Linked DNA regions of Homo sapiens. The protein of the gene in region 3 purifies or fractionates together with the protein of the main gene of each other region. This does not show direct contact. Each region holds a gene or a part of one and is shown on either strand. Other genes may lie near its edges. The genes, in order: ACAA2, NPEPPS and EPHX2.

Region 1 (3,656 bases), on a different chromosome or scaffold from region 3:
CGGGGGCTGACCCCCACCTCCCTCCCGGACGGGGCGGCTGGCCTGGTGGGGGCTGACCCCCACCTCCCTCCCGGATGGCGTGGTTGCCGGGCGGAGACGCTCCTCACTTCCCAGACAGGGTGGCTGCCAGGCGGAGGGGCTCCTCACTTCTCAGATGGGGTGGCTGCCGGGCGGAGGGGCTCCTCACTTAGACGGGGCGGTTGCCGGGCAGAGGGTCTCCTCACTTCTCAGATGGGGCAGCCGGGCAGAGACGCTCCTCACCTCCCAGATGGGGTCGCGGCCGGGCAGAGGCGCTCCCCACATCCCAGATGATGGGCGGCCGGGCAGAGACGCTCCTCACCTCCTAGACGGGATGGCGGCTGGGAAGAGGCGCCCCTCACTTCCTAGATGGGATGGCGGCCAGGCAGAGACGCTCCTCACTTTCCAGACTGGGCAGCCAGGCAGAGGGGCTCCCCACATCCCAGACGATGGGTGGCCAGGCAGAGACGCTCCTCACTTCCCAGACGGGGTGGCAGCCGGGCAGAGGCTGCAATCTCGGCACTTTGGGAGGCCAAGGCAGGCGGCTGGGAGGTGGAGGTTGTAGCGAGCAGAGATCACGCCACTGCACTCCAGCCTGGGCACTATTGAGCACTGAGTGAACAAGACTCCGTCCGCAATCCCAGCACCCCGGGAGGCCGAGGCTGGCGGATCACTCGCGGTTAGGAGCTGGAGACCAGCCAGGCCAACACAGCGAAACCCCGTCTCCACCAAAAAAATACGAAAACCAGTCAGGCGTGGCGGCGCGTGCCTGCAATCGCAGGCACTCAGCAGGCTGAGGCAGGAGAATCAGGCAGGGAGGTTGCAGTGAGCCGAGATGGCAGCAGTACAGTCCAGCTTCAGCTAGGCATCAGAGGGAGACCGTGGGGAGAGGGGGAGGAGGAGGGGGAGAGGGAGAGCTGTGGATTTTTTATAGATTCCCTTTGTCAGATTGAGAAAGTTGCCATCTGTTCCTAGTTTGTTCAGTGTTTTTGTCATGAAAGGGTGTTGTATTTTGTCAAATACTTTTTCTGTTGACTTTTTGTGTTGAAATCCACATTGGATTTCATTGTTTCCTAAGAAATAAGTAAAACTCATTTATTCCAAGTGATATTTAATAATATTAAACTCAATTAGAAAAGCAGCTTTGTGGTATTTGTCAAATGTTATTCGAAGCATATTCTGTTCTCTCTTAACCATAAAGGCCTAACCCCAAATATTTATCTGTTAATAATTTACACGAGATGATCGTGTAAATTTTTTTTATTCTGTTGATATGTGATATTTGACAAACCTTGGCAAAAGAATATCCATTGGCCAAGAATTTTTTTAATGACATTAATTTGTAAAATAAGATAATTTCATCTCAGTCAACAGATGAAACATTTAGTTAGTAGATTAATTGATGTTATACTGAGTTCCTCCCAGTTCCATCTGCATTCAAAACCCTTAACTTATAAATGTGCCGAATTTGTCAAGTTTTGAAAAACTTGAAACCTACACAAAAGTTAAAAGAATAGTACAATGAACATCCTAAAACCCCGTACCTTGATAGACCAATGTTTTACATTTTGTCAAACTTGCTTTTGCTCTTGCTAACAGCCTCCAAAACAGGCTGTTAATGTTTTTGGTTGTTGTTGGTTTTTTTTTTTTAAGTCATTCTTTTTATTCAAAGTGTGGTTCTTGGACTAGCAACATCAGCTTCACCAGGGAAATGGTTAGAAATGCAGAATCTCCGGCAGACCTAGACCTGTTGATTCAGAACTTACATTTTATTATAACAAGACGCCCCCATATGCATTTTAAAGTTTTGGGAGTGGTGGTCTACTCCTACCTCTTACTCTCCTGACCAATCATTCATCTGTCTTCTCCCTAAGTATGCAGTCCTCAGCCTGTTTTACATTAGAATTACTTGGGATGCTTTTTAAAAGTGACTACTGATGCCCAGGCCCCACCTCCAGCCTTTCTGGTTTAATTGATTTGCTTAGGAACTTAAGCATGAGTATGTTAATAAAGCTTCCTAGGTTATTCCAGCCTGCAACCAAGGTTGAGAACCACAGCCTCCGATACTTCCTCTGTTAAGGAGCATACTACTTTAGGATAGCGTATTCCATTTTTAAATAACTCTAATTGTTATAAATTTCTGTCTTATATTAAGGACTTAATGGGATTTCTCTAAGTAGCAATTATCTTTAATATATTTGAAAACCAATTGACTGTGGTTACACAACATTATGAATGTATTTAAATAATACCATTGAACTATACACTTAAAAATGGTTACAATGATACATTTTGTTATGTGTATTTTGCCCCAATAAAAAAATAGAAAAAAACCCAATTGACTGTAGTTTTTATTCAAATTGTAAACACATATTAGATATAATATGCTGTACTTAGATGCATTTTGTCCTACCTTAGAGCCATATAGTTTATCATTTTTGATAGATTGCCAACATTTCCATGTATTTCGTGCTTGTTCTTAATTAGTAGATTTATAGAGAAAATTATTTTTCTTTTCCTTCTCTCTTCTAGAGTTCTTCAGATGCTATATATTTGGCAAGGCATGTTGGTTTGCGTGTGGGAATCCCAAAGGAGACCCCAGCTCTCACGATTAATAGGCTCTGTGGTTCTGGTTTTCAGTCCATTGTGAATGGATGTCAGGTATGGACAACATTTTTTTAAATTCTCTGAAAATATGTTAATAGTTACTAGAAGAAATGTCCCACTGCAATATAACACTTTAGCTTTAGGGAGGATTGCTTGAGCCCTGGAGGTCAAGTAAACCATGATCATACCACTGCACTCCAGCCATGGGCAACAGAGTGAGACCTTGGCTCCAAAAAAAAGAAAAAAAAAAAAAAGCTAATAATGAACCTGAAAGTGGAATAAGCCTGTCATAAAAGGACAAATACTGTATGTTTCTACTTCTTTGAGATACCTAGCGTAGTCAAATTCATAGAGACAGAAAGTAGAATGGTGTTCCCAGGGACTGGTGAGGGAAAGTTAGTGTTTAATGGATATGGAGTTTCAGTTTTGCAAGATGAAAAGCGTTCTGGAGATGGGTGATGGTAATGGTTGCATCACACTATGAATACACTTAAACTACTGAGCTGTATACTTAAAAATGGTTAAAATGGTAAGTATTATATATATATATATACTTCAATATTTTTAAAAGCTAGTATGTTCATCATTCTTTCGAGTGCTTCCTACATGCTAGGCACCCTGCTAGATTTACATTCAATATCTCATTTAATCTTACAACCATCCTATGAAGCAAGAACTATTATTATTATTCCCATTTTACAGGCAAGGAAACTGATTAAAGCCATTAAGGTTACTCAGTCATAGAATTTGAACCCAGGTCTGTGAGTGTTACCTGTGAGGCACTGAATAAAGACCGTGAGGCAAGCAGGAAATCTCAAGAATTTAGGAGAGGATAAGGAAATGTATTTTATTTCAAAGGAAGTGAATGATGCTGTTAGTAGAAGTACAAACTAGTTTGACCTTTTTAAAGGACAGTTGGTTAAATACATTTGTTTCTTTGAGCACAGAGAAGAAAGTGAAATCCAATTTCATTTGTAAAAGTCTTCATTTTATTACAAACAAAATAAGAGCCAGAGGCGTATTTTAATAAA
Region 2 (2,990 bases), on a different chromosome or scaffold from region 3:
TGGGTAGCTGGGACCACAAGCGTGCACTCCCAGGCCAAATTGTTTTTTCCTTTTTGTAGAGATGGGGTCCTACCATGTTGCCCAGACTGGTCTTGAACTCTTGAACTCAAGCAATCCTCCCACCTCAGCCTCCCAAAATGCTGGAATTACAGGAATCCAACATTTTTAATACAGTAAACCAAACAATTTCTAAGTTTACAATTTATCACAATGCTTAATGATTAAAAGTTGAATAAACTTTTCTAATGCAGTACACCTGGTTTCACAGAAAACAAAGCAACTCTTAAACACCAGCTGGCAAAATGATAGGGCTTTTCCTTTGAATTAGTCACCACAGGTGTGAAAGACAGAATGACTAATCCATCTGATTAAACATAGACCTTTTAGAAATCAATAACCTTATTTACACAGATGACAATTGCTACTGTTCCAAGGCTCCTAATCATGGTTCAGTTCTCAGGGCCTCAAGTCTTTTTCCATTCCATCGCAGAGTAGTACCAACATTTATACACCAGAAACCTGGGGATTATCCTGGCTTGTTTTTCTTCCTCTCCCAGATATGCTCACAACAGAGAAGCCAATCAATAAATATTGTTGAACTAAATGGTTAACAAATTCAAGCCCCTGAATCTCCATTATTCCATCTCCTCCACTACTGCCACTACCCTACTGTAAGCTATTCTATCATTCTTGCTAGGAGAGTTAGCTTCCCAACATCTTCTCTTCCCCATTCCAAACTATTATCCACATTGCAGCCAGACTGAAATTTTTATAACACAAATCAGATCAAGGCACTGCCTTGTTTATAAACCATTCGAAGGCTTTCCATTTTTAGGACTTTTTTTTTTTTTTTTTTTTTTGAGACAGGAGTCTCGCTCTGTCACCCAGGCTGGAGTGCAATGGCACGATCTCAGCTCACTGCAACCTCCACCTCCCGGGCTCAAGCAATTCTCCTGCCTCAGCCTCCCGAGTAGCTGGGATTAGAGGCGTGCACCACCATGTCCAGCTAATTTGGGGTTTCACCATGTTGCCCGGGCTGGTCTTGAAGTCCTGACCTCAGGTGATCCACCCACCTCGGCCTCCCAAAGTGCTGAGATTACAGATGTGAGCTACCATGCCTGGCCATTTTTAGGAAATTCTTAATATGGCCTATACAGCCCTGCATGATGTCTTTCTCTAAACAAAAACACAGAGATGCTACAGTACATTATCCCAACACTATAATTACAACCAGGTTATTGTTTTTACTTACTAGACTGAAAAGTGAAGAGTAAACAGTATTTTCCTTACCTTAACCTCTCCAGCCATTTTATCAACTGCAAATCCCTCAACTGATAGCTGCAAAACAATGGTTTTAAACAGTAAGTGAAACCAAGAGGCTGAGAACAAACTTCCATTTACCCTAAAAATAAATCATTCTGTTCTCTGCCAACTTCAGTCTGTTATAAAGGATGTGTGATGGGAGATGGAGAAGTCCTTAAATAAAGCCAGTAACTATTTAAGGAAACTTTTTTTTTTTTGAGACGGAGTTTCACACTTGTTGCCCAGGCTGGAGTGCAATGACCTCATCTCGGCTCACCACAACCTCTGCCTCCCAGGTTCAAGCGATTCTCCTGCCTCAGCCTCCCAAGTAGCTGGGATTACAGGCACACACCACCACGCTCAGCTAATTTTTGTATTTTTAGTAGGGACAGGATTTCACCATGTTGGCCAGGATAGTCTCGAACTCCCGACCTCAGGTGATCTGCCCACCTCGGCGTCCCAAAGTGCTGGTATTACAGGCGTGAGCCACTGCACCTGGCCACAGGAAACATTTAAAGAGCAAAGACCACAATGTATGGGTGTAGTGAATCATGGATGTCACTAAATAATATCCATGATTAGCAAGCTACTCAAAGTTTTTCACATACCTTTATTAGTCTGGATATTAAGAATCCTCCCTGGTATCGGTTATAAAGTTCTTCCCAGTTGTCCTTTATGAATTTCCAAGCAGCTTTCCTACCATGCTTGCTGCCTCCAGCTACTCCACCAATTACCGATACAGTGTCCTGTGGACGTACCTCTTCCTAAAAAAAGAAAGAGAGCTAAAAGTCTAGTGTATCAAAAACATATTCTGGTACCAGAAAGTGCACCATACTGTGACACTGAAGTAATCACACTGAAGACACTTATTCCTTGTTTTAGGAATAACTGGAACCAGAAGTTCTCAGCAAAGAAGATAATGTTTAAGCTAAAGATAACCAAAATGAGAATGAGGTACTGAGACAGGTTCAGACAGACAGACTGCTCAACAGATACTTGCTTAGGAGCCTATAGGTTTAAGAAAGGAAGAGACACAAAGTAAGCAAAGGCATAAGCCAGTTTCCCAGTTTTCAAGAGTCCCTGTCCTCATAGTTTCCATTCTGGAGAGACAATTTGTTTACTCTCCCAACTATTCTGATTCTCGCCACTAGTGGGAGAAAAACAGAAGTCAGTAACAAAAACTCAAGCCAGTTACTCTGGAAAAGGAAGCTTTAGTTAGGGTTAAGGCAGCTCAAGAGGATCAGAGCTGAATCAGAGACACTTCTCAGAGATGGGTAACGATTCACTTCTAAATGCAGTTTTCACCGTAACTTACTGAAAGTGCAAACGTGAGGACTTTTTGAATCAGGTCAGGCAAAAGAGTAGCGCCAAGGACTCTTTCGATTCGGTTTTTCTCTTCTTGCATATCTGCTTGTTTATGAAGCTACAGGAAAAAAGATAAAGATAGGAATAGTTAACTCTCCCTTGGATGTTCTGCATATGATTATATGAGCTTCTTCCCCAGTAAGGTAAAACTTAGGTTCTATATTCTCACTAGGTAAGAATGGCAGGGCATTATATTAAAGAAAGAGAATACTTTTCAAGATGCTTTGGGCCAGGTGCGGTGGTTCACACCTGTAATCCCAGCACTTTGGGAGGCCGAGGCGGGTGGATCACCTGAGGTCAAGAGTTCGAGATCAGCCTGGCCA
Region 3 (3,656 bases):
ACACCTCTGACACAGACACAAGCATGAGCTGGGTTCATTCAAGGCCCTCAGAAGCCTAGATGGAGAAACTACCCTCCTTCCTCCTTGACAACAGTGGAGCAGCACTTATACATTCATCAGCTCATTTTGATCTCTACCACCTCAGGGGTGGACAGGGCCAATCCTACCCTCCCAGATTCACAGATCAGCAAACAAGCTCAGACAAGTTACGAGCTGCCCAGAGCCACATGGTGAAGGTCCAGCATTCTTTCTAGTCCATGCTACTGAAAACACTGCTTGACTAAATTCCAGAATACCTGCCTTGGCAATCAGGGACTAGGTTTCTATTTCAAAACTAGAGAAGTGTACATAGAAATAGGATTATCCCCTGGCTTTATCTGCCTAACCAGCGAGGGTGAGAACTAGGCAATGCTGGAAAGAAGACACTGAAGAGTTGATGGTGAGACTCTTCCCACGCAATAGGAGGGAAGAGTTGCAGACATGGGATGGCTCAGCCACAACCAGGTAAGTCTACTGATAAGAGGGTGGAATAGTTTCAATATGCCTATGACAAGAGTCAGGTGTTCACACCAAGTCAACGCCTATGGATGAACTTGACCTCATGTCTTAGACTATGTGACATAATCTGAGCCCATGTCAGCCAACTCATAGCTTGGACACTCTGATACCCAGAGGCTAAGAAAATCACAGTTGCTAAAAAGGCCTTGTTTCTTAATCACTGTGACAAAAGATCATGTCATTTGGGTCATTACTAAAGTGCCATTGAAGGGGAGAATGATGTTCACAAGGCAGTCATGGGCATCAATTGCTTTATTAAGTAAAATCCTGCCATTTTTCCAGCTTTTCTAATAGTGCTGCTTTTGCCATTGGATAAAACTTGCTTTGGGGCCATGTTTAAAGAGGCTTTCCATCGTGGCTCAGAAGATCTGTGATCTCAAAGCTCACTTCAATGGATTCTGACCTAATGCTCCCGAGGGTTCTGGGTGGTTCGGCCTGAGATTGGCCAGTATCAGATCCTTACCTTTCTTCCTGAGCATGAGAGCTGCCTGGAGCATGGGGCGGTTGATCTTTCTGGCTGAAATCGCCTTGTCAAAGATTTCTTTTATGGAGAAATTCTTGGGGAGGCAGACTTTAGCGGTCTCGGAGCACTTCCTGCAGTTTTCTTCCATGAGTGGTATCCACTGTCAAAGTGAAGTGAGGGGACAATTTGTATGGCCACTCAGAAAAGCTCTGGCAGGGTCTACTAAATCTAAACATATACATTCCCTGTGACCAAGCAATTCCACTCCTGGACACATACCCACTGGAAATGCCAACATATGTTCTCCAAGAGACATGGCCAAAAATGTTCATAGCTATACTCTTCCTAGGAGTCCCAAACCAGAAACGACCCAAATGCCCACTAACAGCAGAATGGATAGATTGTATTATATTCACCCACAGTCATAGCAGTGCTATTCCTAAGAGCCCTGTCTTAGCCCATCTCAGCTGCTATAACAAAAGACCAGAGGCTGGGTGGCTCATAAACAGCAGAAATTTATTTCTTACAGTGCTGAAGGCTGGGAAGTCCAAGATCAAGGCTCCAGCAGATTTGGTGTCTGGTTAGGGCTTGCCTTCTATTTCACAGATGGCACCTTCTTGCTGTCTTCACATGGTAGAAGGGGCTCGATAGCTCTCTGGGATCTCTTTTATAAGTGCACTGATCTCACTCCTGAGGGTTCCACCCTCATGACCCAATTACTTCCTGAAGGCCCCACCTCTTAATAACATCACCTTGGGGGTTAGGATTTCAACATAGGGATTTTGGGCGGGGGGCACAAACACTTGGACCATAGCAAGCCCCAAACTGGAACTACCCAAATGTCCACTGTTATGGGCTAAACTGTGTCCTCCCCAAAATTCCTGTGTTGAAGTCCTAGCCCCCAGAGTCTCATGATGTGACTATATTTGGAAATCAGGCCTTTAAAGAGGTACTTAAGGTAAAATGAAGTCATTATGACGAATCTTAATCCAATATGACTGGTGCCCAAATAAGAAGAGGAGATGAGGACATAGACACACACAGGGATGACCATGTGAGGACACAGGGAGAAGACAGCCAAGAACTTGCTTTTTTTCCCCTGTCTCTCTGCTTTCTACCATGTGAGGATACAGCAAGAAGGTGGCCATCTGCAAACCAAGAAGAGAGCCCTCACCAGACACTGAACCTGCCAGTGCCTTCATCTTGGACTTCCCAGCCTCCAGAACTGTGAGCTATAAATGTCTGTTGTTTCAGTCACACAGTCTATGGCATATTTGCTGTAGGTAGCAGCTGAAGGTGCTATGTAAGACACAGCCCTAGCAAACTAATACACTCACTAATAGCAGAATGGATTGTTATATATACACATCATCATAGCAGCACTATTTGTAATAGTCCCAAACTGAAAACTACCCAGAACCCCATCAATAGAAGAATGGATAGATTGGGGTATATGAATGTGATGGAATGTCATGCAGCAATGAGAATAAAATGATCTATGGCAGCATGCAACAACGATGAGTCTCACTCATACAATGTTGAGCAAAAGATGCCAGACGCAAAAGAGCTGATGTGCACAATTCCATTTACATAAAGTCCAAAACAGGTAAAAGTGATCTATTGGGATAGAAGTTAGAATGGTAATACTCTTGGAGGGATGGTATCCAGAGCGGGGTTATGTGTTGCCTACAGCGCTGAGAATGTTTTATTTCTTGATCTGGGTGCTGGTGACAGCAGTATACTTAGTGTGTGAAAAGTCATCAAGCTGTATGCTATGTGTACTTTTCTGTCTGTATAGTATATACACATGAAAAGTTAAAAGATGACATTCACTCCCAAGATAAGACTTTTTTTTTTAAGACAAGTCAAGTGTAAATAGCCTTAGCATGATATAATTTAGTTTTCCAGGCTTCTTCCCTCTAGCCATGCCAGTTTCCTAGAAGTTACACACAGACTATCAGAAGCCACCAAAGGAGTCTGAATGAAACGCAGGATTTTCATAGCAATTACTAGAAATTCACTCTAAATTCTGTATGTTCATTGAAAATATAGGCTGGGCATGGTGGCTCATACCTGTAATCCTAGCACTTTGGAACACCAAGGTGGGTGTATCATTTGAACCCAGGAGTTCTAGACCAGTCTGGGTAACACGGTGAAACCCCATTTCTAGCAATAATAATAATAATACAAAAAACAGCTGGGCATGGTGATGTGTGCCTGTAATCCCAGCTACTTGGGAGGCTGAGGTGGGAGGATCATCTGAGCCCAGGAGGTAAAGGCTGCAGTGAGCCATGATCATGCCACTGCACTCCAGCCTAGGCAATAGAGTGAGAACCTGTCTCAGAAAAAGAAGAAAGAAGAAAGAAGAAAGAAGAAGAAGAAGAAGAAGAAGAAGAAGAAGAAGAAGAAGAAGAAGAAGAAGAAGAAGAAGAAGAAGAAAATATATAGCATTTCCCTCTTTCTTACCTTCCAACAATATTACTGAGGTTTTTTTATGGATTAAATAAAAAGTCAATAATTCAATAATGTTCTTCCCAATAGTTTCATCACAGTTTTCGTTCACCATTTGCCACAATATATTAGCAAGTATGTTTTAAGGTGACTGCAATACTCCCATTAATACCATTAAAACAAC

The links.
Region 1: the proteins of EPHX2 (region 3) and ACAA2 fractionate together in Homo sapiens (co-fractionation; one large-scale study listed by BioGRID). This does not show direct contact.
Region 2: the proteins of EPHX2 (region 3) and NPEPPS fractionate together in Homo sapiens (co-fractionation; one large-scale study listed by BioGRID). This does not show direct contact.

What each region holds. Positions count from the first base shown.
Region 1 is NC_000018.10:49,796,489-49,800,144, reverse strand, and holds part of ACAA2 (3-ketoacyl-CoA thiolase, mitochondrial), read left to right. Parts: intron 1-2,550; coding exon 2,551-2,679; intron 2,680-3,656. UniProt on the Homo sapiens protein: In the production of energy from fats, this is one of the enzymes that catalyzes the last step of the mitochondrial beta-oxidation pathway, an aerobic process breaking down fatty acids into acetyl-CoA.
Region 2 is NC_000017.11:47,618,085-47,621,074, reverse strand, and holds part of NPEPPS (puromycin-sensitive aminopeptidase), read right to left. Parts: intron 2,726-2,990; coding exon 2,618-2,725; intron 2,067-2,617; coding exon 1,911-2,066; intron 1,798-1,910; coding exon of another isoform or gene 1,703-1,797; intron 1,339-1,702; coding exon 1,291-1,338; intron 1-1,290. UniProt on the Homo sapiens protein: Aminopeptidase with broad substrate specificity for several peptides. Involved in proteolytic events essential for cell growth and viability. May act as regulator of neuropeptide activity.
Region 3 is NC_000008.11:27,501,129-27,504,784, reverse strand, and holds part of EPHX2 (bifunctional epoxide hydrolase 2), read right to left. Parts: intron 1,182-3,656; coding exon 1,022-1,181; intron 1-1,021. UniProt on the Homo sapiens protein: Bifunctional enzyme. The C-terminal domain has epoxide hydrolase activity and acts on epoxides (alkene oxides, oxiranes) and arene oxides. Plays a role in xenobiotic metabolism by degrading potentially toxic epoxides.